Linked DNA regions of Homo sapiens. The protein of the gene in region 7 interacts with the protein of the main gene of each other region in a biochemical or structural test. Each region holds a gene or a part of one and is shown on either strand. Other genes may lie near its edges.

Region 1 (3,500 bases), on a different chromosome or scaffold from region 7:
TTTTCCCCGTACATGAAGGGCAGTTGGGTACAGTCATGGTAATGCATTATATTTTAAGATTTTGCCTTTCTTATACAGAACAATCCCAGCCTAAAACTTACATACACAGAATGTCTGAGGGTTTGTGGCAACTGGTTAGCAGAAACGTGCTTAGAAAATCCTGCGGTCATCATGCAGACCTATCTAGAAAAGGTAAGATTTTTGGAGCAACCCTTAAGATAGTTACTTAGCATGAATATGCTTCATCTTTTCATCAAGATCAATATATTTCCAAAGCAAATAAAAGTATGGTTTTATTTTTCTATATATTATTACTGTTGTAGCTCTGTATAGTCTCTAGGGTGGAGTGAAACATTGTTACAAAACAAAGCAGCCAATTTTGAAAGTAAGCCCAAGTATAGTATCTCTTCTTCCTCCTTCCTACCTCCACTACCAGCTACCCTTTCAGCAGGTTGCTTCTGATCATTTCTTCATTTATGCATCTACAAAAATAACTGATTAAGAATAGGCAAGTCAGCCCTTGCTCTTCATTAGCCCAGCCACCCACAAGTAAAGGCTTCAATATACTAGCCCCTTTGACTTTCCTGTTTCTCCCTCTTATTCCTTTAGATTCACTAATTTTGGAAATAGTTACCTCACTAAATAAGTGTAACATGAAACACATGATGCGATTGTCTTTCTTTTCTTTTCTTTTCTTTGAGATGAAGTCTCTCTCTGTCGCCCAAGCTGGAGTGCAGTGGCGCAATCTCGGCTCACTGCAACCTCTGCCTCCTGGGTTCAAGCGATTCTCCTGCCTCAGCTTCCCAAGTAGCTGGGACTACAGGAGTGTGCCACCACACCCGGCTAATATTTTTTATTTTTAGTAGAGACGGTTTCGCCACATTGGCCAGTCTGGTCTCGAACTCCTGACCTCAAGTGATCCACCTGCCTCGGCCTCCCAAAGTGCTGGCATTACAGGCTTGAGCCACCACACCCAGCCTGATTGTCTTTAAATTTTATAAAGTTCTCTGTTTTTGCAGAGTTCTTTACAAGTATTAGCTGTCTGGGTTATTTCTACACTGTCAAAGTTGTTTTGAAAAGTCAAGAAAATACCATAGTTCAGGGCTGTCCAATCTTTTGGCTTCCCTGGGCCACATTGCAAGAAGAATTGCCTTGGGCCACACATAAAATATACTAACATTAATGATAGCTAATGAGCTTAAAAAAAATCACAAAAGAAATCTCATAATGTTTTAAGAAAATGTACGAATTTGTGTTGGGCCACATTCAAAGCCGTCCTGGGCCACATGCGGCCCATGGGCCGTGGGTTGGACAAGTTTGCAATAGTTCATATAATTTAGCTAGCTTTTATATGTATATAAGTTAAATTTTAGTGTATTACCTTAATTTGAGTGATTCTTTAGATGTATTTAGTATTTGTAAATATAATTTAAATTGGTTGTGTTTTCTTGAAGGCAGTAGAAGTTGCTGGAAATTATGATGGAGAAAGTAGTGATGAGCTAAGAAATGGAAAAATGAAGGCATTTCTCTCATTAGCCCGGTTTTCAGATACTCAATACCAAAGAATTGAAAACTACATGAAATCATCGGAATTTGAAAACAAGCAAGCTCTCCTGAAAAGAGCCAAAGAGGAAGTAGGTCTCCTTAGGGAACATAAAATTCAGACAAACAGGTAACTAGGTTTCTACAAGTGACAATTTTATGTTCACCAGTTAACTGAGTGAGTGTTTTTGCATAGAAAGAGTGACTTGGTCTTTTTATCTGATATAGTTTTGAGCTCTAAAGGTCGGCTTAACTATATATAGATTATCTTGGTCTTTTGGGTTCTTTTCGGTTTTTGTTTTTTGTTTTTTTTTTTGAGACAAGGTCTCACTCTGTCACCCAGGCTGGAGTACAGTGGCGTGATCACTGTACTCCAGCTCACTGCAACCTCGACCTCCTGGACTCAATTGATTCTCCCCCTGAGCCCCCGAAATAGCTGGGGCTACAGGTGCACGCCATACCTGGCTAATTTTTGTATTTTTTGTAGAGATGGGGTTTTGCCATGTTGCCCAGGTTGGTCTCAAACTCATGGGCTCAAACGATCTGCCCACCTTGGCCGCCCAAAGTGCTGGGATTACAGGTGTGAGGCACTGTGCCCTGTCTGTCTTGGTCCTACTGTAGTTAATCACAAATTAGTATGTAAGATATTGACGTGTTCTTTTGTGAATAATTCATGCTCTGCTTCTAAGTTCATTGTGGAGAATATAGATATTAGCTTTCTGTTTTGCTTTTTTGGTTTGTTTGTTGGTATCATAGTGGAAAAGGAGATAGATATTGAAATTAATTACAAAAGTTACCTATTTTGATGTAATTAAATCCCTTTATTTAAGCCTGTCTTGAATCTGTATATTTTAGTGTAAGCAGAGGTGTAAGTTAGCTAAATAGCTTGGGGAGAGTCCCCTTTGTCCTTTGATGCTTAGGAAGGTGTGTGAATTGCACAGTTAAGACAAAAGTAAGTTTATTCCCTTTATAATCCTTAGAAGTTTGCTTTTTTCCCTGGGATAAAAACCCAACTTTTTTCATTAAATGTTGTATATCATGTGTGATTTTGTAGTTCTGTTAAAGTTCATGGCTTTTGTGTTTTACCTTAATTATTCTATGCAAGATACACAGTAAAGGTTCAGCGAGAGCTGGAGTTGGATGAATTAGCCCTGCGTGCACTGAAAGAGGATCGTAAACGCTTCTTATGTAAAGCAGTTGAAAATTATATCAACTGCTTATTAAGTGGAGAAGAACATGATATGTGGGTATTCCGACTTTGTTCCCTCTGGCTTGAAAATTCTGGAGTTTCTGAAGTCAATGGCATGATGAAGGCAAGTGTTACTCAGCCCAATATTCTACCCTGTGCTTGAAAAACTTAGACATAAGCCCCTTGATGTCAGGAATCGTGTATACCTCTTTGTATTCCTAGCACTTGGTCCAGTGCTCTACACATAAGTAGCATTTTGTAGTTTTCTAAACTTTGATCCATATTTAGGATTATTTACAAGTTCTAGTCTTGTTTCTACAAAAGTTCCTTTGTATTATATAAGCTGACAAGCTGTAAATGATGCAAGTTTGTGTGGAGGTGATAGAATTTAGCTTGGTCCTATGTCTTTGCAGTTACCATAGGAGAGGGTCTAGAATGGGGCATTAGATTGGAGGATTTAGAAAGCAGTTAAAGATGATGTGATCACAGGTGGGTTTTCCCCCTGCTGCAGAAATATGGGATTTTTACAATAAATTACTTTTGTAAGTAGAGAAAATATATTTTTCAGAAAATGTCAAGACAGCAGTATTGTATAAGTTTTTCTTTGAAAACCTTAGATTATAGTGATGACACCTAATATTAAATTTAAGTTGACAAGCTATATATTGTTAGTCAATTTGAAGGTTAGAGATAAAATGTTTCTCCTGCAGGAAAATAATAAGACTCATAATAGATACAGTCAATCTCTGCTGTAGTATACACTAAATAT
Region 2 (2,619 bases), on a different chromosome or scaffold from region 7:
TGTTCCCCTGCCCTCCTTTCTCAGCAGCTTTTTGTTATTGTTGTTGTTGTTCTTAGACAAGTGCCTCCTGGTGCCTGCGGCATCCTTCTGCCTGTTTCTGTAAGCAAATGCCACAGGCCACCTATAGCTACATACTCCTGGCATTGCACTTTTTAACCTTGCTGACATCCAAATAGAAGATAGGACTATCTAAGCCCTAGGTTTCTTTTTAAATTAAGAAATAATAACAATTAAAGGGCAAAAAACACTGTATCAGCATAGCCTTTCTGTATTTAAGAAACTTAAGCAGCCGGGCATGGTGGCTCACGCCTGTAATCCCAGCACTTTGGGAGGCCGAGGCGGATCATAAGGTCAGGAGATCAAGACCATCCTGGCTAACACGGTGAAACCCCGTCTCTACTAAAAGTACAAAAAATTAGCTGGGTGTGGTGGTGGGCGCCTGTAGTCCCAGCTACTCGGGAGGCTGAGGCAGGAGAATCGCTTGAACCTGAGAGGCGGAGGTTGCAGTGAGCCAAAATTGCACCACTGCACACTGCACTCCATCCTGGGCGACAGTCTGAGACTCTGTCTCAAAAAAAAAAAAAAAAAAAAGAAACTTCAGTTAACAGCCTCCTTGGTGCTTTAAGCATTCAGCTTCCTTCAGGCTGGTAATTTATATAATCCCTGAAACGGGCTTCAGGTCAAACCCTTAAGACATCTGAAGCTGCAACCTGGCCTTTGGTGTTGAAATAGGAAGGTTTAAGGAGAATCTAAGCATTTTAGACTTTTTTTTATAAATAGACTTATTTTCCTTTGTAATGTATTGGCCTTTTAGTGAGTAAGGCTGGGCAGAGGGTGCTTACAACCTTGACTCCCTTTCTCCCTGGACTTGATCTGCTGTTTCAGAGGCTAGGTTGTTTCTGTGGGTGCCTTATCAGGGCTGGGATACTTCTGATTCTGGCTTCCTTCCTGCCCCACCCTCCCGACCCCAGTCCCCCTGATCCTGCTAGAGGCATGTCTCCTTGCGTGTCTAAAGGTCCCTCATCCTGTTTGTTTTAGGAATCCTGGTCTCAGGACCTCATGGAAGAAGAGGGGGAGAGAGTTACAGGTTGGACATGATGCACACTATGGGGCCCCAGCGACGTGTCTGGTTGAGCTCAGGGAATATGGTTCTTAGCCAGTTTCTTGGTGATATCCAGTGGCACTTGTAATGGCGTCTTCATTCAGTTCATGCAGGGCAAAGGCTTACTGATAAACTTGAGTCTGCCCTCGTATGAGGGTGTATACCTGGCCTCCCTCTGAGGCTGGTGACTCCTCCCTGCTGGGGCCCCACAGGTGAGGCAGAACAGCTAGAGGGCCTCCCCGCCTGCCCGCCTTGGCTGGCTAGCTCGCCTCTCCTGTGCGTATGGGAACACCTAGCACGTGCTGGATGGGCTGCCTCTGACTCAGAGGCATGGCCGGATTTGGCAACTCAAAACCACCTTGCCTCAGCTGATCAGAGTTTCTGTGGAATTCTGTTTGTTAAATCAAATTAGCTGGTCTCTGAATTAAGGGGGAGACGACCTTCTCTAAGATGAACAGGGTTCGCCCCAGTCCTCCTGCCTGGAGACAGTTGATGTGTCATGCAGAGCTCTTACTTCTCCAGCAACACTCTTCAGTACATAATAAGCTTAACTGATAAACAGAATATTTAGAAAGGTGAGACTTGGGCTTACCATTGGGTTTAAATCATAGGGACCTAGGGCGAGGGTTCAGGGCTTCTCTGGAGCAGATATTGTCAAGTTCATGGCCTTAGGTAGCATGTATCTGGTCTTAACTCTGATTGTAGCAAAAGTTCTGAGAGGAGCTGAGCCCTGTTGTGGCCCATTAAAGAACAGGGTCCTCAGGCCCTGCCCGCTTCCTGTCCACTGCCCCCTCCCCATCCCCAGCCCAGCCGAGGGAATCCCGTGGGTTGCTTACCTACCTATAAGGTGGTTTATAAGCTGCTGTCCTGGCCACTGCATTCAAATTCCAATGTGTACTTCATAGTGTAAAAATTTATATTATTGTGAGGTTTTTTGTCTTTTTTTTTTTTTTTTTTTTTTGGTATATTGCTGTATCTACTTTAACTTCCAGAAATAAACGTTATATAGGAACCGTCTGATAGCATGGCAGCTCTGTTTGGCTGGTGGAGGCTTCCTTTTCCCCTGCATAAGTTCTGAGGGGGCCTCACACACAGGTGGGGCCTGGGATAAGGGCCGGAAAGGGTCTTGAGAGGAGGTGGTTGCCTTAATCCCCCCCGCCAACCCCCTTATGTTAGCCACCAGCCCGGAGGTAAGGGGTGCCTGGAGGAGCAGGAGGTCAATAGTCCAACGGCAGAAAGGTGTCAGAGTGGAGGCCTCCCTCCCCGGCCCCCTCCTACCCCCCAGAGCGGCCTCGTCCTGTCTGGGGTCAGATAAGCCACCTAAGCGGGGTGGGGGGTAGATACTCCCACCGCACCAAGGCCTCCCCTTCCACAGTTGGCTCCTTTATCACTTTCCCTTCAGTTCACCCAGCGGGGACAACACGCAGACACCCGGTGGTGGCTGCAGGGCCCCCGGCAGCCAGCGGTGATAATGCAGGGAAAGGCGCCCCAACCTCAGCTACGCGGGCGCCCACAGG
Region 3 (4,200 bases), on a different chromosome or scaffold from region 7:
TGGCTCGCACTCCGGGCAAAGGGGTCAGAACAGTGACTGGCACACACGTTAAGTGCTATGTGAGTGTTAAGATAAAACTAGGATGTCCAGTGGGGAGAAAGCAAGCCTTTGAAGATTATGTGCTTTTACAAACTTCAAGTGCAATGAAAACTAAACAAGATGTTGTTCAGGCATTCATATATGATATAAAGTTCCTTTCTTTAAAAAAGGGATGGGCTGGGCACGGTGGCTCACGCCTGTAATTCTAATACTTTGGGAGGCCGAGGCAGGTGGATCACGAGGTCGAGAAATCGAGACCATCCTGGCCAACATGGTGAAACCCTGTCTCTACTAAAAATACAAAAAAATTAGCTGGGCGTGGTGGCGTGTGCCTGTAGTCCCAGCTACTTGGGAGGCTGAGGCAGGAGAGTCACTTGAACCCGGGAGGCAAAGGTTGCAGTGAGCCGAGATCGTGCCACCGCACTCCAGCCTGGCGACAGAGTGAGACTCCATCTCAAAAAAAAAAAGAAAAAAAAAAGTATGACAAGCAGAAAGTAATTTGGGAGCTGCGGGGAGGCAAGGGTAAGGGATGGGGAAGTGGACCAGAGGCATATGCGTCATTGGCAGTGTCTAAGCACTCACGATAGGCGTGGATCACAGGGGCTCGCTCTGTAATTAAAAGGAAAAGGGTTTTTGTTGTGTTGTTGTTGTTGCTGTTTTTGAGACAAGGGTCTTGCTCTGTCATCATCCAGGCTGGAGTGCAGTGGTGCAGTCTCAGCTCACTGCAACCTCCGCCTCCTGGGTTCAAGCGATTCTCCTGCCTCAGCCTCCTGAGCAGCTAGGACTACAGGTGTGTGCCACCATGCCTGGCTAATTTTTGTATTTTTTAGTGGAAATGGGGTTTTGCCATGTTGCCCAGGCTCGTCTTGAACTCCTGACCTCAAGTGATCCACTCGTCTCGGCCTCCCAAAGTGCTGGGATTACAGGTGTGAGCTATTGTCCCCAGCCAAAAGGAAAAGTTTTACTGTAGTAACCCTTCCGGACTAGGGACCTCGGGCCTCAGCCTCAGGCTACCTAGGTGCTTTAGAAAGGAGGCCACCCAGGCCCATGACTACTCCTTGCCACAGGGAGCCCTGCACACAGATGTGCTAAGCTCTCGCTGCCAGCCAGAGGGAGGAGGGTCTGAGCCAGTCAGAAGGAGATGGGCCCCAGAGAGTAAGAAAGGGGGAGGAGGACCCAAGCTGATCCAAAAGGTGGGTCTAAGCAGTCAAGTGGAGGAGGGTTCCAATCTGATGGCGGAGGGCCCAAGCTCAGCCTAACGAGGAGGCCAGGCCCACCAAGGGGCCCCTGGAGGACTTGTTTCCCTTGTCCCTTGTGGTTTTTTGCATTTCCTGTTCCCTTGCTGCTCATTGCGGAAGTTCCTCTTCTTACCCTGCACCCAGAGCCTCGCCAGAGAAGACAAGGGCAGAAAGCACCATGAGTGGGGGCCCAATGGGAGGAAGGCCCGGGGGCCGAGGAGCACCAGCGGTTCAGCAGAACATACCCTCCACCCTCCTCCAGGACCACGAGAACCAGCGACTCTTTGAGATGCTTGGACGAAAATGCTTGGTGAGCTGGGGATCTCCTGCCCCCGCCCCGTCCCCACCGTTTCTTCCTCTTCCTCTCCTCCTTCTCTCTCTTCCCCTCCTCCCGCTCCTCCTTTCCCTCTCCATCATCTCCTCTCCTAGAATTTCCCGTCATAATCCACCCTTCCCAGGAAGATCTCAATGTCTACTTGCCTTCCCTCTGGCTGCAGCTCTTCCTTTGGGCCCATGACTGTCATGAGGCAGGAAGGACCAGGTCTGGCTCCAAGACCTTGTGGCTACCCCTGACCAGACTCCACTGACCCCTGCTTTCCTCTCCCAGACGCTGGCCACTGCAGTTGTTCAGCTGTACCTGGCGCTGCCCCCTGGAGCTGAGCACTGGACCAAGGAGCATTGTGGGGCTGTGTGCTTCGTGAAGGATAACCCCCAGAAGTCCTACTTCATCCGCCTTTACGGCCTTCAGGTGACCCCCCCACCCCCGACTGGACTTGCAAGCCAGTTCTCAACCCGCAAACCCAGATCTGTGTCCATATGTGTCCATAGCTTCAAGACCTCAGACCTGATCAGTGAATCCCTGAGCCCCAGAACCAAAGACTCATCCAGATGGCAAACTCTGACTTGCCTTTCTAAGTCTGCAATGACTGGCCCCAGTCTCCGTATCAAGATCTCTAAAGCCCCCAGTATTAGTCTGCTGCCTAAGCCTAATCTTTTCCACAAATTCCAATAAATGAGCACTGTATTTGTACCTGAACCTCAAATCTATTCTAAACTCAACATTTTGCATCCCAGGAATCTCTCATCAAAACTCCTGAACCCCAGATGTTTGCCAAGCTCCTAAGTCATAAATCTGTTCAACAAACCCCAAAGTTGAATATTCCATTGATCCTTGAACTCCAAATCTGTCCTTCTAAATCCACAGCACAGACCCCAGAGTTCCCATATTAAAATTCCTGAACACTCAAATACCGAGGTAGTTCTTAAGCAAAAAGTCTTTTCCACAATCCCCTGACCTGAACTTTCTAGGTTTAAGCCCCAAATTCATCCTTTTAAACCCATAAAGATGGACCCAGCATAACTTCCAGATCCCAAGGCTATCAAATATCCACCAAACTCCTAAACCATAACTCTCTCCACAAACCCCAAATTGCACTTACTTTAGCTGGACTCCCCGCGAAACTCCCAAGTCTATGTGTCTGAACTTCAAATCTCAACTCCAACCCCCAAATACTAGAATCCTACCTGTCATGAATTGGGGCTGGGGTGGTGGGGGAGGGCATGGATTGAATCTGTGAATGAGCCTCAACTTCCTAAGACTAGAGTCCTAAATTATGAAATTCAAGCCCCCAAGTCCCAGATCTAGGGCCCCAAACCCCAAATCCAAACCTCTCACAAAAGTGTATGGCTCCCAGACTATACCCCACAATCCACACCCTTAGACACCAACTCTCTGGTGCTGAGCTGAAAATCTCCAAACCAGACTATGAGGCTCCCAAATCCAGACACCCTGCTCCCTGCCCAGCTAACAAAAGCCTGCCACCCCCGGCGTGCCTCAGTGCCACTGTGCCTCCCACCCTACACCTCTCCAGGCTGGTCGGCTGCTCTGGGAACAGGAGCTGTACTCACAGCTTGTCTACTCCACCCCCACCCCCTTCTTCCACACCTTCGCTGGAGATGTAAGTGATCAACCAGCCCTCGGGCCTCACTTGGGGTGTGGAGAGGAGATGGGAAAGTTGCGGGGGACCTGGGAGGCGGCTGACCCCAAGGTATGTGCAGGACTGCCAAGCGGGGCTGAACTTTGCAGACGAGGACGAGGCCCAGGCCTTCCGGGCCCTCGTGCAGGAGAAGATACAAAAAAGGAATCAGAGGCAAAGTGGAGGTGAGGAGGCCACAGGGGAGGAAAGGAAGTTGGGCAGAGGTGAGTGCAAGCCTGGGGAACTAGAAAAGTCCCCTCTCATGGTCCTGGCTCCCAATCCATCTATCCACAGACAGACGCCAGCTACCCCCACCACCAACACCAGCCAATGAAGGTGAGTCCTCTAGTGCAAGTAGGGGTAATAAGGGGCTAGCCCAGGAACCTGTGGCAGGGCTGTGATAACTCTCTACACATTCCATCTTCCCAGAGAGAAGAGGAGGGCTCCCACCCCTGCCCCTGCATCCAGGTGGAGACCAAGGAGGTGCGTGCTGATTCTTCCCTGTGTCTCTGGATGGATGGGTAAGAGTGGATGGAGGAATGAGGAGTTGGATGGGTGCGTAAGTGGGTGAATGGATAGGTAGATTGATAGGTATGTGGATGGACGAGCAGGTGCATGGATGTGTGGACTGATGGATGGGTGGATGGATTGGCGGTAGATGGCTGAGTAGAGGGATGAATTGATGGGAGGATGAAAGTCTAAGTAGATAGATGCATAGGTGAATGGGTATGTGGATAAATGAATGAAAAGGTAGATGGATGACTGAGTAAATTAATCAATGAGTGAATGAATGAACAGTGAATAAATGACTAAATGACAAGTTTCAGTCAGTGAAGAAAGCATGATTGAATGAATAAATGAGTAAATGAATATTTTAACAAATTCATTAGTCAATGAGCCAGTGAATGATAAAGCATGAGGGAATGAAAACATGAATGAATCAGTGA
Region 4 (3,438 bases), on a different chromosome or scaffold from region 7:
CAGAAGTATTGCTGGGGTCAGCTCGTTACTCAACTCCAGTTGACATTTGGAGTATAGGCACCATATTTGCTGAACTAGCAACTAAGAAACCACTTTTCCATGGGGATTCAGAAATTGATCAACTCTTCAGGATTTTCAGGTAGCTATTAAAAACTGAGATAATAAAGGTAACATATATGTAACAATGAGATTACATTTATGCTTTAAGAAATTTTTAATTTCCTGTTTTTTAGAGCTTTGGGCACTCCCAATAATGAAGTGTGGCCAGAAGTGGAATCTTTACAGGACTATAAGAATACATTTCCCAAATGGAAACCAGGAAGCCTAGCATCCCATGTCAAAAACTTGGATGAAAATGGCTTGGATTTGCTCTCGGTAAGGAGTGCCCTTGATACTGACTTTCAAATTATTGATGATTCTGAATATATTCAGTTCTTTGTTTTGCCTAGAAAATAGGAAGAACACTAACATTTTTGAGCTAGGTGTCTGTTATGTACATTGTATTATACTAGCTTCATTTTAGATATCAGGAGGCACTAGTGGCTTTGAGAGGAGGATTTAGCATTAGTTTTTGTTTTTTATCTGACAGGTAGCTATGGATATTCTGAGGGAGAAGCCAGGATTAATACACATTTTTTTTTTTAAGTTGCTGAATTGTAGTGGCTCTCCTTTCTAGCATTTTTGTCACTATTGAGCCCTCTTAGTTTATGCTAGACGTGTTTTTCTTATTGGTTGATATTTTAAATTATTAAAGCCATCTTCTGAATAAGCTTTATTCGCACTTTGTACCTAGTTTCTCCATCAGAAGGATCTATTGCTATACCATTGTATACATTTTCTCATTGGTCTTCGGGTTACTTTCAGAGTGTAAAGACTCCTTATGCCACAAAATTAAGCTTAGATTTCCCCCAAATCAAATACTATAAATCAGATTCCTTAGTCTAGCCACAATTGACATATCTTGGAGTGGATAAATCTTTGTTGCTGGCATTGTTCTGTGCATCATAACTTGTTTAGTGGCATGTCATCACTGTCTTCTACTCTCTAGATGCCATTAGTATACTCTTCACAGTTAGGACAACCAAAAGTGTCTCCAGATATTGCCAAATGTCTCCTGATGGGCAAAGTCTATCCCAGTTGCGAACCATTATTGTAAATTAAACTTGGTTTCAAATTTGAGCTTTATTCCTTAGCTCTGGGAACTTGGGCAAGTTACTTCCCTTCGAGCCTCAATGTCCTCATTTGTAAAATGACATTAATACCTACTTTTAGCTGTGGGAATTGAGTACCATGATTTATACAAAGCAGTTTGTATGGTGCTGGTTACATGAGAGTTCAGATGGTAACTAGTTAGTAAAAAATCTCTAGTGTGCTTGTTGATTTTATTTTATTTTAGTATTTCTTAAAGATCAAATTTAACATCAATCCTAAACTTTATTTAGCTTTTTCTGGCGCGTAAACTAACATACTAAGTTGTGTGACTATAATTCATTTAGTGACTCATTTTTAGCTATTTTTATAACACATTGTGCTATGGGGGGTTTTGGAACTTGCTGGAAGCTACATCAGAAACTGCCATAGTTAATTGCCATTTCAAGAATGTTGTAAATAACTCAGGTGGCCGTTTAATTCTCAATGTAAATATAATTAACTAGACGTCTTTCCTATATTTGTGTCTCAGTTTTAAAGCTATTTCTGGATGCTTGAGTCTTACCGTAATTGATAACAAAAAGAGGTTATTGAGAATATCTATGATTTACAGAGTAAGTTATTCTAGACCTCAAGAGTGAAATGTAGGGGAGGAGACATTTGTGTGTTAAACTAATGGAAATGCTCATTTAATAGATATTCACTGAAAGTATTAGTTTTGGTTTATTGCTAGAAAAGTTGAGGTTTTATGGAGATTTTTGTAAAAAATGGTTTATTTCCTAAATAAATATCTCTTTTTCTTTTTTCTCCCAGAAAATGTTAATCTATGATCCAGCCAAACGAATTTCTGGCAAAATGGCACTGAATCATCCATATTTTAATGATTTGGACAATCAGATTAAGAAGATGTAGCTTTCTGACAAAAAGTTTCCATATGTTATATCAACAGATAGTTGTGTTTTTATTGTTAACTCTTGTCTATTTTTGTCTTATATATATTTCTTTGTTATCAAACTTCAGCTGTACTTCGTCTTCTAATTTCAAAAATATAACTTAAAAATGTAAATATTCTATATGAATTTAAATATAATTCTGTAAATGTGTGTAGGTCTCACTGTAACAACTATTTGTTACTATAATAAAACTATAATATTGATGTCAGGAATCAGGAAAAAATTTGAGTTGGCTTAAATCATCTCAGTCCTTATGGCAGTTTTATTTTCCTGTAGTTGGAACTACTAAAATTTAGGAAAATGCTAAGTTCAAGTTTCGTAATGCTTTGAAGTATTTTTATGCTCTGAATGTTTAAATGTTCTCATCAGTTTCTTGCCATGTTGTTAACTATACAACCTGGCTAAAGATGAATATTTTTCTACTGGTATTTTAATTTTTGACCTAAATGTTTAAGCATTCGGAATGAGAAAACTATACAGATTTGAGAAATGATGCTAAATTTATAGGAGTTTTCAGTAACTTAAAAAGCTAACATGAGAGCATGCCAAAATTTGCTAAGTCTTACAAAGATCAAGGGCTGTCCGCAACAGGGAAGAACAGTTTTGAAAATTTATGAACTATCTTATTTTTAGGTAGGTTTTGAAAGCTTTTTGTCTAAGTGAATTCTTATGCCTTGGTCAGAGTAATAACTGAAGGAGTTGCTTATCTTGGCTTTCGAGTCTGAGTTTAAAACTACACATTTTGACATAGTGTTTATTAGCAGCCATCTAAAAAGGCTCTAATGTATATTTAACTAAAATTACTAGCTTTGGGAATTAAACTGTTTAACAAATAATGCTGCTCATTGTGATTCTTACCTATAAGCAGCCTAATTTGAATTATTTGCTGCAATCAAGAGAAGTGTACAATAGTTTTATTACTTTTTTAGTGTACTTCTATCCTTTTTCCAACTATATCTCCTCTATTTTTCCTCCTCGTTAACAGGCTAGAATGTGCATTCCTGGGTTACCGATTTTTACACTCAATTGGATGTGTAATGAGGGATCTATCTAATCCATCTTGTCTTGGAAATTTTGCACTCTAGAAGAAAGTGTGTCACTTTCTTCAGCAGCGAGACCTTTTAAGATTGGTGGTTTGGTTGTCCTGTTCTGTGGTCTTTGGTGGAAGCCAGTTTGTTGTAAGAGAATGTAGAGCTTATTAATGTAAGTCATTTGGGGTTATATTGTGGAGGGTTGTTTAGGATTGCATGGCAGGAATTGGGTAAATGAAAGGTAACACTAAAGATTGGAGATGGTATAATGGCATATCTACAGGTCTGTGTTTCCTTATCTGCGA
Region 5 (2,996 bases), on a different chromosome or scaffold from region 7:
GTTATCCTTTTTGCGTTAAAGTATATGTTTACTTGTGTTCCTGTGCTGTATATTTTAAAAATTTCTGGAAGGCTGCATGAGAAACTGTTAGAATTGTTACTTCTGGATATTGGGATGAGTTGTGGGTGAGGTTAGGAGGTATGTGTGATTTTACTTTTTTTTTTTTTTTTTTAAATTTCCATAGGTTTTGGGGAACATGTGGTGTTTGGTTACATGAATAAGTTCTTTAGTGGTGATACCAAGATTTTGGTGCACCCATAACCCAAGCAGTGTACATTGTACCCAGTGTGTAGTCTATTGTACCCAGTGTGTAGTCTGTTGTCCCTTGCCTCCCTCCGCCAAGTCACCAAAGTTTATTGTATCATTCTTATGCCTTTGCGTCCTCACAGCTTAGCTCCTACTTATGAGTGAGGACATACAATGTTTGGTTTTCCATTCCTGAGTTACTTCACTTAGAATATTGGTCTCCAATTCCAATTCCATCCGGATTGCTGTGAATGCCATTATTTTGTTCCTTTTTATGGCTGAGTAGTATTCCATGGCGTGACTTTTCCTCTGGGTAGATACCCGGAAGTGGGATTGCGGAATCAAGTGGTAGGTCTACTTTTAGTTCATTAAGGACTCTCCATACTGTTTTCCATAGTGATTGTACTAGTTTACATTCCCACCAACAGTGTAAAAGTGTTCCCTTTTCATCACATCCATGCCAACACCTATTATTTTTTGATTTTTTGATTATGGCCATTCCTGCAAAGTGAGGTGGTGTTGCATTGAGGTTTTGATTTACATTTCCCTGATAATTAATGATGTTGAACATTTTTCTTATGTTCGTTGGCCATTTGTATATATTCTTTTGAGAATTGTATATTCATGTCCTTAGCCCACTTTTTGGTGGGATTGTTTGTTTTGTTCTTGCTGATTTGTTTGAGTTCCTTGTAGATTCTGGATATTAGTCCTTTGTTGGATGTATAGATTTTTTTCTCCCACTCTATGGGTTGTCTGTTTACCCTGATGATTATTTCTTTTGCTGTGCAGAAGCTTTTTCGTTTAATTAAGTTTCATCTATTTATCATTTCTTTTGTTGCATTTGCTTTTGGGTTCTTGGTCATGAAGTCTTTGCCTAAGCCATTGTCTAGAAGGATTTTTCCAATATTGCTTTCTAGAATTTTTATGGTTTCAGGTCTTAGATTTAAGTCTTTGATCCATCTTGAGTTGATTTTTGTATAGGGTGAGAGATGAGGATCTAGTTCCATTCTTCTACATGTGGCTTGCCAATTATCCTACCACCATTTGTTGAATAGGGTGTCCCTTCCCACTTTATGTTTTTGTTTGGTTTGTCAAAGATCAGTTGACTACGTATTTGGCTTTATTTCTGGGTTCTCTATTCTGTTACATTGGTTTACATGCCTATTTTTATACCAGTACCATGCTGTTTTTGTGACTATGGCTTTATAGTATAGGTTGAAGTCAGGTAATGTGATGCCTCCAGATTTGTTCATTTTGCTTAGTCTTGCTTTGGCTATGTATGCTCTTTTTTGGTTCCATATGCGTTTTAGGATTGTTTGTTCTAGTTCCGTGAAGAATGATGTTGGTATTTTGATGGGAATTGCATTTCATTTGTAGATTGCTTTTGGCAGTATGGTCATTTTCACAATATTGATTCTACCCATCCACGAGCATGGGATGTGTTTCCATTTGTTTGTGTCATCTGTGATTTCTTTCAGCAGTGTTTTGTAATTTTTCTTGTCGAGGTCTTTCACGTTCTTGGTTAAGTATATTCCTAAGTATTTTATTTTATTTTTTTTGCAGCTGTTGTCAAAGGGTTTGAGTTCTTGATATGATTCTCAGTTTGGTTGCTGTTGGTGTATAGCAGAGCTCTGATTTGTGTACATTAATTTTGTATAGTGAAGCTTTGCTGAATTCATTTACCAGTTCTAGCACCTTTCTGGATGAGTCTTTAGGGTTTTCTAGGTATATGATAATGTAATCAGCAAACAGTGACAGTTTGACTTCCTCATTACCAATTTGGATGCCTTTTATTTCTTTCTCTTGTCTGATTGCTCTGGCTAGGACTTCCAGTGCCATGTTGAATGGAAGTGGTGAGAGTGGCATCTGTGTCTTGTTCCAGTTCTCAGGGGGAATGCTTTCAACTTTTCCTTGTTCAGTATAATGTTGGCTGTGGGATTGTCATAGATGGCTTTTATTACCTTAAGGTATGTCCCTTCTATGCTGATTTTGCTAGAGTTTTAATCATAAAAGGATGCTGGATTTTGTCAAATGCTTTTTCTGCATCTATTGAGATGATCATGTGATTTTTTAAAAATTCTGTTTATATGGTGTATCAGATTTATTGACTTGTGGATGTCAAACCATCCCTGTATCCCTGGTGTGAGACCCACTTGATCATGGTGGACTATCTTTTTGATATGCTTTTTGAAGGCAGTGTGAGAAACTGTTAGAATGGTTACCTCTACATATTGGGATGAGTTGTGGGTGAGGTTAGGAGGTGGGTGTTTGTGATTTTACTTTTTACACTTTAATATTGTTTGATTCTACTTTGTGCATTAATTTCAAAAAAGACTCTTTTAGAATGTCTAGCCATTCTGAAGGAAATACTCTTGGACTTTTGTTTGAGTTCTAATTTATATGTTATAGTATGAATTGCCAGGTTTTAAGCATTAGCATGCATTCTCTATTTTTGGCAATTTGGAAAAGAATCTTTTCAGTCATTTTTCAGACTCTTACTGAATCTTCCACAATATTTTATATTAAAAGTAAAGCTTTCAGTTATCATAGTCTTGATGTATTTTGAAGGGTTCATGGGCAAAATCAGTAATAGTTTGAGATTTCTAACATACTGTATTTTGTGGGCTTATAGATTAACAGAATAGTTTTTTTTCTTTTTTTAATCTTTTCATTTGTGTTAAAATCTGATTTTCTGTTCAAAGGTTGATGCCCAGCTACAGGTAGTAAGGAAACTGGAAGAGAAGGAGCAT
Region 6 (3,500 bases), on a different chromosome or scaffold from region 7:
CTCATCCTGCTCTCAGAGTAATTCTCAGGTCCTTCTTAGCCTGTAGGAGGAGGACTTGCAGGGAGGGGAAATCTGTACCTTTTTTTTTTTCTTTTTTTTGATACAAGGTCTTACTCTGTCACCCAGGGTGGAGCATGATCTCAGCTCACTGCATCCTACACCTCCTGGGCTCAAGCCATCCTACTGCTTCAGCCTCCTGAGTAGCTGGTACTACAGGCACACACCACCATGCCTGGCCAATTTTTGTATTTTTTGTAGAGACAAGGTTTTGTCATGTTGCTTAGGCTAGTCTTGAACTTCTGGGCTCAAGCCATCTGCCTGCCTCAGCCTCCCAAAGTGCTGGGATGACAGGTGTGAGCCAGCTATATTGTGGTTTTGCTTCATAATCCATACCCATTGTTTAATCAGTAAAATTGATTGATTATGGAAACAACAGCCTGTCTACAGAGCATCTTGAGCGTATATGTGGTTCAGCAGGTAGAATCTGTAACTGAGCAGATAGAAAGTAGTATCTGGATTTTTTGTTTGTTTGTTTGTTTTTTTGAGACAGTCTCGCTCTATAGCCTAGGCTCGAATGCTCAGGCATGATCATGGCTCACTACAGCCTTGATCTCCCTGGCTCAAGCAATCCTCTTACCTCAGCCTCCAGAGTAGCTAGGACTACAGGCATGCCACCATGCCCAGGTTTTTGTTTTTGTTTTAATTTTTATTATTTGTAGAGACAGAGTCTTACTCTGTTGCCCAGGTGGAATTCTTTATGATCATAATGACTCTTCACTCCAGGGTTTCCCTTTAGTTGTGGTATTTGTATAATCTTTGGTTTGATTGTGAATTTCTATGTAATCTAGCAGCTGTTTTTTGCTATGTCACACCTGCATGCACCTGAGTCTGTGTTCATGGAGTTGGGCATGAGTAGTGTGTTGTGTGAAGGAGGTCAAACATTACTGAGGTGGGTGGCTTAAGGTAGTATATACCAAGTTATGTTTCCTAATTTGAAGATAATCATGCAGGAAAATTTATTATAGGGAAGAGGATGATATGGTGCGGTGAAAAAATGGGGAATTAGGAATCAAAAGGTTTGAGTTCCCACTGCACTGCTGACTTGCTTTCTGATCCTAACAAGTTTCTAACTCCTCCAAGCCTCCATTCATCAGATGATATACAGAAACGCTCTTTCAGGGGGTTGCAAGGATCTAATTAGAGGCTATTGAAGACTCTTTGTACACTGTAAAATGCTATTCAGATATTATTTATTTTAATAAACAGTGATTGCTTTATGTCAGGCTCTTTAACAAAAATTCTTACAATTCAGACCTCCTATCAACACTGCAAAGCAGGCATTATTATCGCCATTAGTCAATAAGGCACCTGGCATACAGAGAGTAACTAAGTAACTTGCTCACCTACTACTTTTAAGTGATGATTCCCAATTTAAGTTCCAGCTGCTTTTTTGCTATGTTGTCGTGCTGTTAATAAAGGATAAATGGTAGAGGTTTGAACTTTAACAACAACTTGGATTATGCTTCTAAAAAAATGGAAGTGGTGCTCTAGACTAGGAGTCAGGAGGTTCAGACTGTTACTATATTTTTCTATTATTTTGGGGTAAGTTACTTAAATTAATTTCATTAAATACGTTTAAAACACTTGGCTATGTTTCTGCTAAGGTTTACATGTAAAATGCTTTCTTATTTTAATCATTTTCAGAATTTAAAAAATTTCCTTCGAAGGGATCAAAAGTATTTTATGAATCTGTTTTAATATTTTTTTTTCTTTTTTTAAAGTCATTCCTACACTGGCCAAGATTACAGTACCCAGGGAAATGTTGGGAAGATTTCTTTAGATCAGATTGATTTGGTAAGTAGAACATTATTTTAAACTTAGAACTTTATCAATGGAGGGAACATAGATTTTCTTAAATCAAAGACTTTTGGGTGAGGAGATAGAATATTATTTCACTGCTTGCTGATTAATTTTAAAGAAAATCCCATGTCCCACTTAGATGATTTTAAAAAAAATCATAAGAAAATCATTTAATCAGAAAATTATCTGTACTTTTATGAAAACAGAATTTAATCAACTATTCCAAACAGGAATTCTTTTAAATAGCTAAATGGAGTTTGTGTTTACATTTAAATAGTGTATACATTTAATAAAGGGGAAATGGAAAACACTAAGTGTATTAGTTTGTTAGGGTTGTCATGACAACGGAAATTTATTTTCTCACAGTCTAGAGGCTCGAAATCCAAGATCAAAGGGATAGTAGGTTTGATTTCTTCCAGGGCCTTTCTTGTCTCACAGATAGCTGCCTTCTCCTTGTGTTCTCCTGTGGTTTTCCCACTGCTTGCATACATCCCTGGTGTCTCTTCTTTTTGTAAGGACACTGAGTATGTGAGACCAGGGCCCCACCCCCATGGCCTCCTTTAATCTTAATGAGTTCTTTAAAGGCCCCATCTCTAAATATAGTCACATTTGGAGCTACTAGAGGTCAGGACTTGATATATGAATTTCAGGGGGAGAGGACAATTCATCATCCAGTGTAGGCTACGAGATTAATAGATAGCTTATTTTAGCATCATTTGACTTTGTGGTTCCATAGGGTAGCGTACTTTGCCATACTTGTAGAATTTCTCTTTAATACATAACAGCATTTGCACTCCATACACAAAGGGAAAATAAGCCAGCCATAAATAATCTTGGGTTAGACAACTACCAAATTATTCACAATAAATTAAAAATACACAGGGATTTTAATGCTTGGAAACAAGAACTGTAATAAGACTAGTAGAGAAAGAACGTGAGTTTGGATCAGAATGAATAGGTCGTCTTCCATTTGAAAAATTATAAAAAAGTACTTGCAGTTAATATGTCTAGAAATAACAGTAGGGTTGCCTACTTTACACAGTTGATTTGTTGATTTGAAATTTGTTCTCAAAGATGTCCCATCTTTTAATTTTTTTATTAAACACTTATCTCTAACAGTCCACTTTCTCACTTCCACTCATGTGATTTGTGCTTATATAATGTGAATGGTTGGAGGTTAATTCTGTTCTTAGTTCTAGCTAGATGTTTCCCTATTCACAAGCAAATGTGAATTTCATTGGATACTGTTGGAGTTCATAGAAATATTAATTCATTTAATGGATATGTATTGAGCCCATCAGTTATGTAGCAGCCATTGTGCTGTGGATACAGAAGTGAGGAAAACAGAAAATGTCCCTGCCTTCATGGACCTTACATGAGGGAGAGGGACAACATAATAAATAATAAATGAGCAATATAATGTTAAGTGCTATGATGATGATCCTGTCATGGGTCTGTGCCTGAGACCCCGTGGTGAGTAATACAGATGTATCTTTTTCTGGACTGCCTCCTAACTCTGTATCTATATTGTTTGATCTTCACAACAGCATGTCATTTGCATATCCCTTGGTATTTGCAACTCTTCTCCAAATGTTTTCTTTAGTTTTTTCTTCTAACAAATCTGGCTTTCTCAATGCTGT
Region 7 (3,500 bases):
AACCCTGCTACTGCTTTCTCAACTAAACTTATGGAGTAGTCTAAATCCTTTATTGTCGTTTTAACAATGTTCACAGCATCTTCACTAGGAGGAGATTCCATCTCAAGAAACCAGTTTATTTGCTCATCCATGAGAAGCAACTCCTTTGAGAGGCCCAGGCGGCCAGATAGATCATTTGAGGTCAGGAGTTTGAGACCACCCTGGCCAGCATGGTGAAACCTCGTCTCTACTAAAAATAAAAAATTTAGCTGGGCATGGTGGTACATGCCTGTAATCCTGGCTACTCGGGAGGGTGAGGCAGGAGAATCACTTGAACCTGAGAGATGGAGGTTGCAGTGAGCCAAAATTGTGCCACTGCCCTCCAGCCTGGGTAACAGAGTGAGGCTCAGTCTCAAAAAAAAGGAAGCAACTCCTCATCCACTCAAGTTTTACCATAAAGTTACAGCAATTCAGTTATATCTTTAAGCTCCATTTCTAATTCCAGTTCTCCTGCTATTTCCACCACATCTGCTGTTACTTGCCCCACTGAAGGTGGAGGTAGCAGTGAGCCCAGATTGTGCCATTGCACTCCAGCCTGGGTGACAGAGCGAGACCTTATCTCAAAAAAAAAAAAAAAATCTTAAGCAGCCACCCAATATATACTTCAGATTAAAAAAGAGCTGTTGGCCAGGTGCGGTGGCTCATGCGTGTAATCTCAGCACTTTGGGAGACTGAGGCAGGTGGATCACTTGAGGCCAGGAGTTTGACACCAGCCTGGCCAATAAGGTAAAACCCCGTCTCTACTAAAAATGCAAAAACTAGCCGGGCACAGTGGTGCATGCCTGTAATCCCAGCTACTCAGGAGGCTGAGGCAGGAGAATCACTTGAACCCGGGAGGCACAGGCTGCAGTGAGCCGAGATCCCACCATTGTAATCCGTCCTGGATGATAAAACGAGACCTTATCAAAAAACCAAATAAATAAATCTCAGCTGGGTTCGGTGGCTGACGCCTGTAATCCCAACACTTTGGGAGGCGGAGGCGGGTGGATCACCTGAAGTCAGGAGTTCAAGACTAGCCTGGTCAATGTGGCAAAACCCTGTCTATTAAAAATACAAAAGCCGGGCACCGTGGCTCACGCCTGTAATCCCAGCACTTTGGGAGGCCGAGGCGGGCGGATCACGAGGTCAGGAGATCGAGACCATCCTGGTTAACAGGGTGAAACCTTGTCTCTACTAAAAATACAAAAAATTAGCCGGGCGTGGTGGCGGGCGCCTGTAGTCCCAGCTACTAGGGAGGCTGAGGCAGGAGAATGGTGTGAACCCATAAGGCGGAGCTTGCAGTGAGCTGAGATCCCACCACTGCACTCCAGCCTGGGCGACAGAGCGAGACTCTGTCTCAAAAAAAAAGAAAAAAATTGTTCATATTATTTCTATGGTTTCTTTTATTATAATTAAACCTATGATCTACATGGAATATATTTTGATAAAAGGAGTTGAGGTAGAGATCTTTTCTCAAGTGGATTCAAAATGTTGTATATGGGAATACAATTGTTTTGTTTGTGTGGTTTTTTTTTTTTTTTTTTCTTTTTTTTTTTGAGATAGAGTCCTGCTCTGTTGCCCAGCCTGGAGTGCAGTGGCACAGTCTCTCACTGCAACCTCTGCCTCCTGGGTTCAAGTGATTCTCCTGCCTCAGCCTCCCGAGTAGCTGGGACTACAGGCACCCACCACCACACCTGGCTAATCTTTGCATTTTTAGTAGAGACAGGGTTTCCCTGTTAGCCAGGCTGGTCTCGAACTCCTGACCTCGTGATCCGCCCGCCTCAGCCTCCCAAAGAGCTGGGATTACAGGCGTGAGCCACTGTGCCCACCCTTTTTTTTGTATTATTAACAGAGGCAGGGTTTCACCACGTTGGCCAGGCTGGTCTCGAACTCCTAACCTCAAGTGACTTGCTCGCCTTGGCCTCCCAAAATGCTAGGATTACAGGCATGAGTCACTGCACCTGGCCAGAGTTTTTATTTTTAAGCATATATTTTCTAGTTTTTTGTTTGTTTTTAGAGACGAGGTCTCACTATGTTGCCCAGGCTGGTTTCAAACTCCTGAGCTCGAAGGATCCTCCTGCCTTGTCCTCCTAAAGTGCTAGGATAACAGGTGTGAGTCCATATACCCCGATATATTTTCAATTTTTTTTAAAGTAATACATTTTATGTAGTCAGAAAAGAACTTTAAAAATCAGCTAATGGGCCGGACACGATGGCTCAAGCCTGTAATCCCAGCACTTTGGGAGGCCGCGACGGGTGGATCATGAGGTCAGGAGATCGAGACCATCCTGGCCAACATGGGGAAACCCCGTCTCTACTAAAGATACAAAAAAAATACAAAAAAATTAACCAGGTGTGGTGGCAGGCGCCTATAGTCCCAGCTATTTGGGAGGCTGAGGCAGGAGAATCACTTAAACTTGTGAGGCAGAGGTTGCAATGAGCCGAGATCATGCCGCTCCACTCCAGTCTGGGTGACAGAGCAAGACACTTCGTCTCAAAAAAAAAAAAAAAAATCAGCTAATGTATTTTTCTTATAAATAATGTGTGCATATTCTAGGAAACTGATAAGTATTAAAATCGTTTTTAATTATCTTAGTCAACCATTATAAACAGTTTAGTGTGTATTGTCCCAAATGGGAAATCAGCTTTTTTCCATGTATCATGACTTGTTTTTCCAGGCAGTAAATAGAATTCTATGTTATCATTTGCAACAGTGTGGAGTATCCTATTATATAGAAATGTGTACTTTATGTTGGATATTTAGGTTGTTTTAAAATTTTTAATATTCTATACTATGATAAATCTAAATCTTAATGCATGTTCTTAATTACTTCCTTAAATTCCTAAAAGTAGAATTGCTTTGCCAATAAGTATATCCACCAGAAAATTGTGTGCCTGCCGGGCGTGGTGGCGGGCGCCTGTAATCCCAGCTACTGGGGAAGTTGAGGCAGGAGAATTACTCAAACCCTCCCTTGGGAGGCGGAGGTTGCAGCGAGCCAAGATCGTGCCACTGCACTCCAGCCTGGGTGACAGAGCGAGACTCCCTCTCAAAAAAAGAAAAAAGAAAATTGTGTGCCTAAGAGCTTGAACGAGAGTGTCACAATTGTTTGCTTTTTTATGATGTGCTACAGAACTTTGGAACTGATAATTACCTTTAGAGATATTTTTATTCTAATTCCTGGTTTTACAAAATAAGTTGTAAAAGGCAGGGCAAACTACTTAATGCCATTTTAGGATCCTTTAACTCTTCTACTTCGTAACTTTCTCTTTCTATACATAATATAGAAACGTTAAAGAGGCTTTTACCAGCATCACTAAAACTTTAATGACATGTTTGTATTTTATGTTAGGACACCAGCAGTGAAAACACTGTGGTTCCTCCAGAAACATATGTGAAAGTGGCAGGCCACCTGAGATCTTTTCAGGTAAAGTCAGAATAAAATAACAGTTAAAGTGTTTTTGCATGAAGCAGTTTCTAGATT

Evidence for each region.
Region 1: of the proteins of RPA2 (region 7) and ATM, one has a biochemical effect on the other in vitro, tested with the Homo sapiens proteins (3 studies listed by BioGRID).
Region 2: the proteins of RPA2 (region 7) and STAT3 form a complex in vitro, tested with the Homo sapiens proteins (one study listed by BioGRID).
Region 3: the proteins of RPA2 (region 7) and WAS form a complex in vitro, tested with the Homo sapiens proteins (one study listed by BioGRID).
Region 4: of the proteins of RPA2 (region 7) and CDK1, one has a biochemical effect on the other in vitro, tested with the Homo sapiens proteins (2 studies listed by BioGRID).
Region 5: the proteins of RPA2 (region 7) and RNF20 form a complex in vitro, tested with the Homo sapiens proteins (one study listed by BioGRID).
Region 6: the proteins of RPA2 (region 7) and PRIM2 interact in a biophysical measurement, tested with the Homo sapiens proteins (one study listed by IntAct).

The regions. Positions count from the first base shown.
Region 1 is NC_000011.10:108,327,567-108,331,066, forward strand, and holds part of ATM (serine-protein kinase ATM), read left to right. Parts: intron 1-78; coding exon 79-192; intron 193-1,454; coding exon 1,455-1,672; intron 1,673-2,647; coding exon 2,648-2,855; intron 2,856-3,500.
Region 2 is NC_000017.11:42,312,824-42,315,442, reverse strand, and holds the end of STAT3 (signal transducer and activator of transcription 3), read left to right. Parts: 3' UTR 1-2,119; downstream 2,120-2,619. UniProt on the Homo sapiens protein: Signal transducer and transcription activator that mediates cellular responses to interleukins, KITLG/SCF, LEP and other growth factors. Once activated, recruits coactivators, such as NCOA1 or MED1, to the promoter region of the target gene.
Region 3 is NC_000023.11:48,682,399-48,686,598, forward strand, and holds the start of WAS (actin nucleation-promoting factor WAS), read left to right. Parts: upstream 1-1,400; 5' UTR 1,401-1,455; coding exon 1,456-1,587; intron 1,588-1,884; coding exon 1,885-2,025; intron 2,026-3,148; coding exon 3,149-3,235; intron 3,236-3,335; coding exon 3,336-3,438; intron 3,439-3,547; coding exon 3,548-3,589; intron 3,590-3,682; coding exon 3,683-3,736; intron 3,737-4,200. UniProt on the Homo sapiens protein: Effector protein for Rho-type GTPases that regulates actin filament reorganization via its interaction with the Arp2/3 complex. Important for efficient actin polymerization. Possible regulator of lymphocyte and platelet function.
Region 4 is NC_000010.11:60,791,915-60,795,352, forward strand, and holds the end of CDK1 (cyclin-dependent kinase 1), read left to right. Parts: coding exon 1-139; intron 140-233; coding exon 234-375; intron 376-1,962; coding exon 1,963-2,061; 3' UTR 2,062-2,938; downstream 2,939-3,438. UniProt on the Homo sapiens protein: Plays a key role in the control of the eukaryotic cell cycle by modulating the centrosome cycle as well as mitotic onset; promotes G2-M transition via association with multiple interphase cyclins.
Region 5 is NC_000009.12:101,557,853-101,560,848, forward strand, and holds part of RNF20 (E3 ubiquitin-protein ligase BRE1A), read left to right. Parts: intron 1-2,948; coding exon 2,949-2,996. UniProt on the Homo sapiens protein: Component of the RNF20/40 E3 ubiquitin-protein ligase complex that mediates monoubiquitination of 'Lys-120' of histone H2B (H2BK120ub1).
Region 6 is NC_000006.12:57,530,630-57,534,129, forward strand, and holds part of PRIM2 (DNA primase large subunit), read left to right. Parts: intron 1-1,781; coding exon 1,782-1,854; intron 1,855-3,500. UniProt on the Homo sapiens protein: Regulatory subunit of the DNA primase complex and component of the DNA polymerase alpha complex (also known as the alpha DNA polymerase-primase complex) which play an essential role in the initiation of DNA synthesis.
Region 7 is NC_000001.11:27,897,576-27,901,075, reverse strand, and holds part of RPA2 (replication protein A 32 kDa subunit), read left to right. Parts: intron 1-3,368; coding exon 3,369-3,443; intron 3,444-3,500. UniProt on the Homo sapiens protein: As part of the heterotrimeric replication protein A complex (RPA/RP-A), binds and stabilizes single-stranded DNA intermediates that form during DNA replication or upon DNA stress.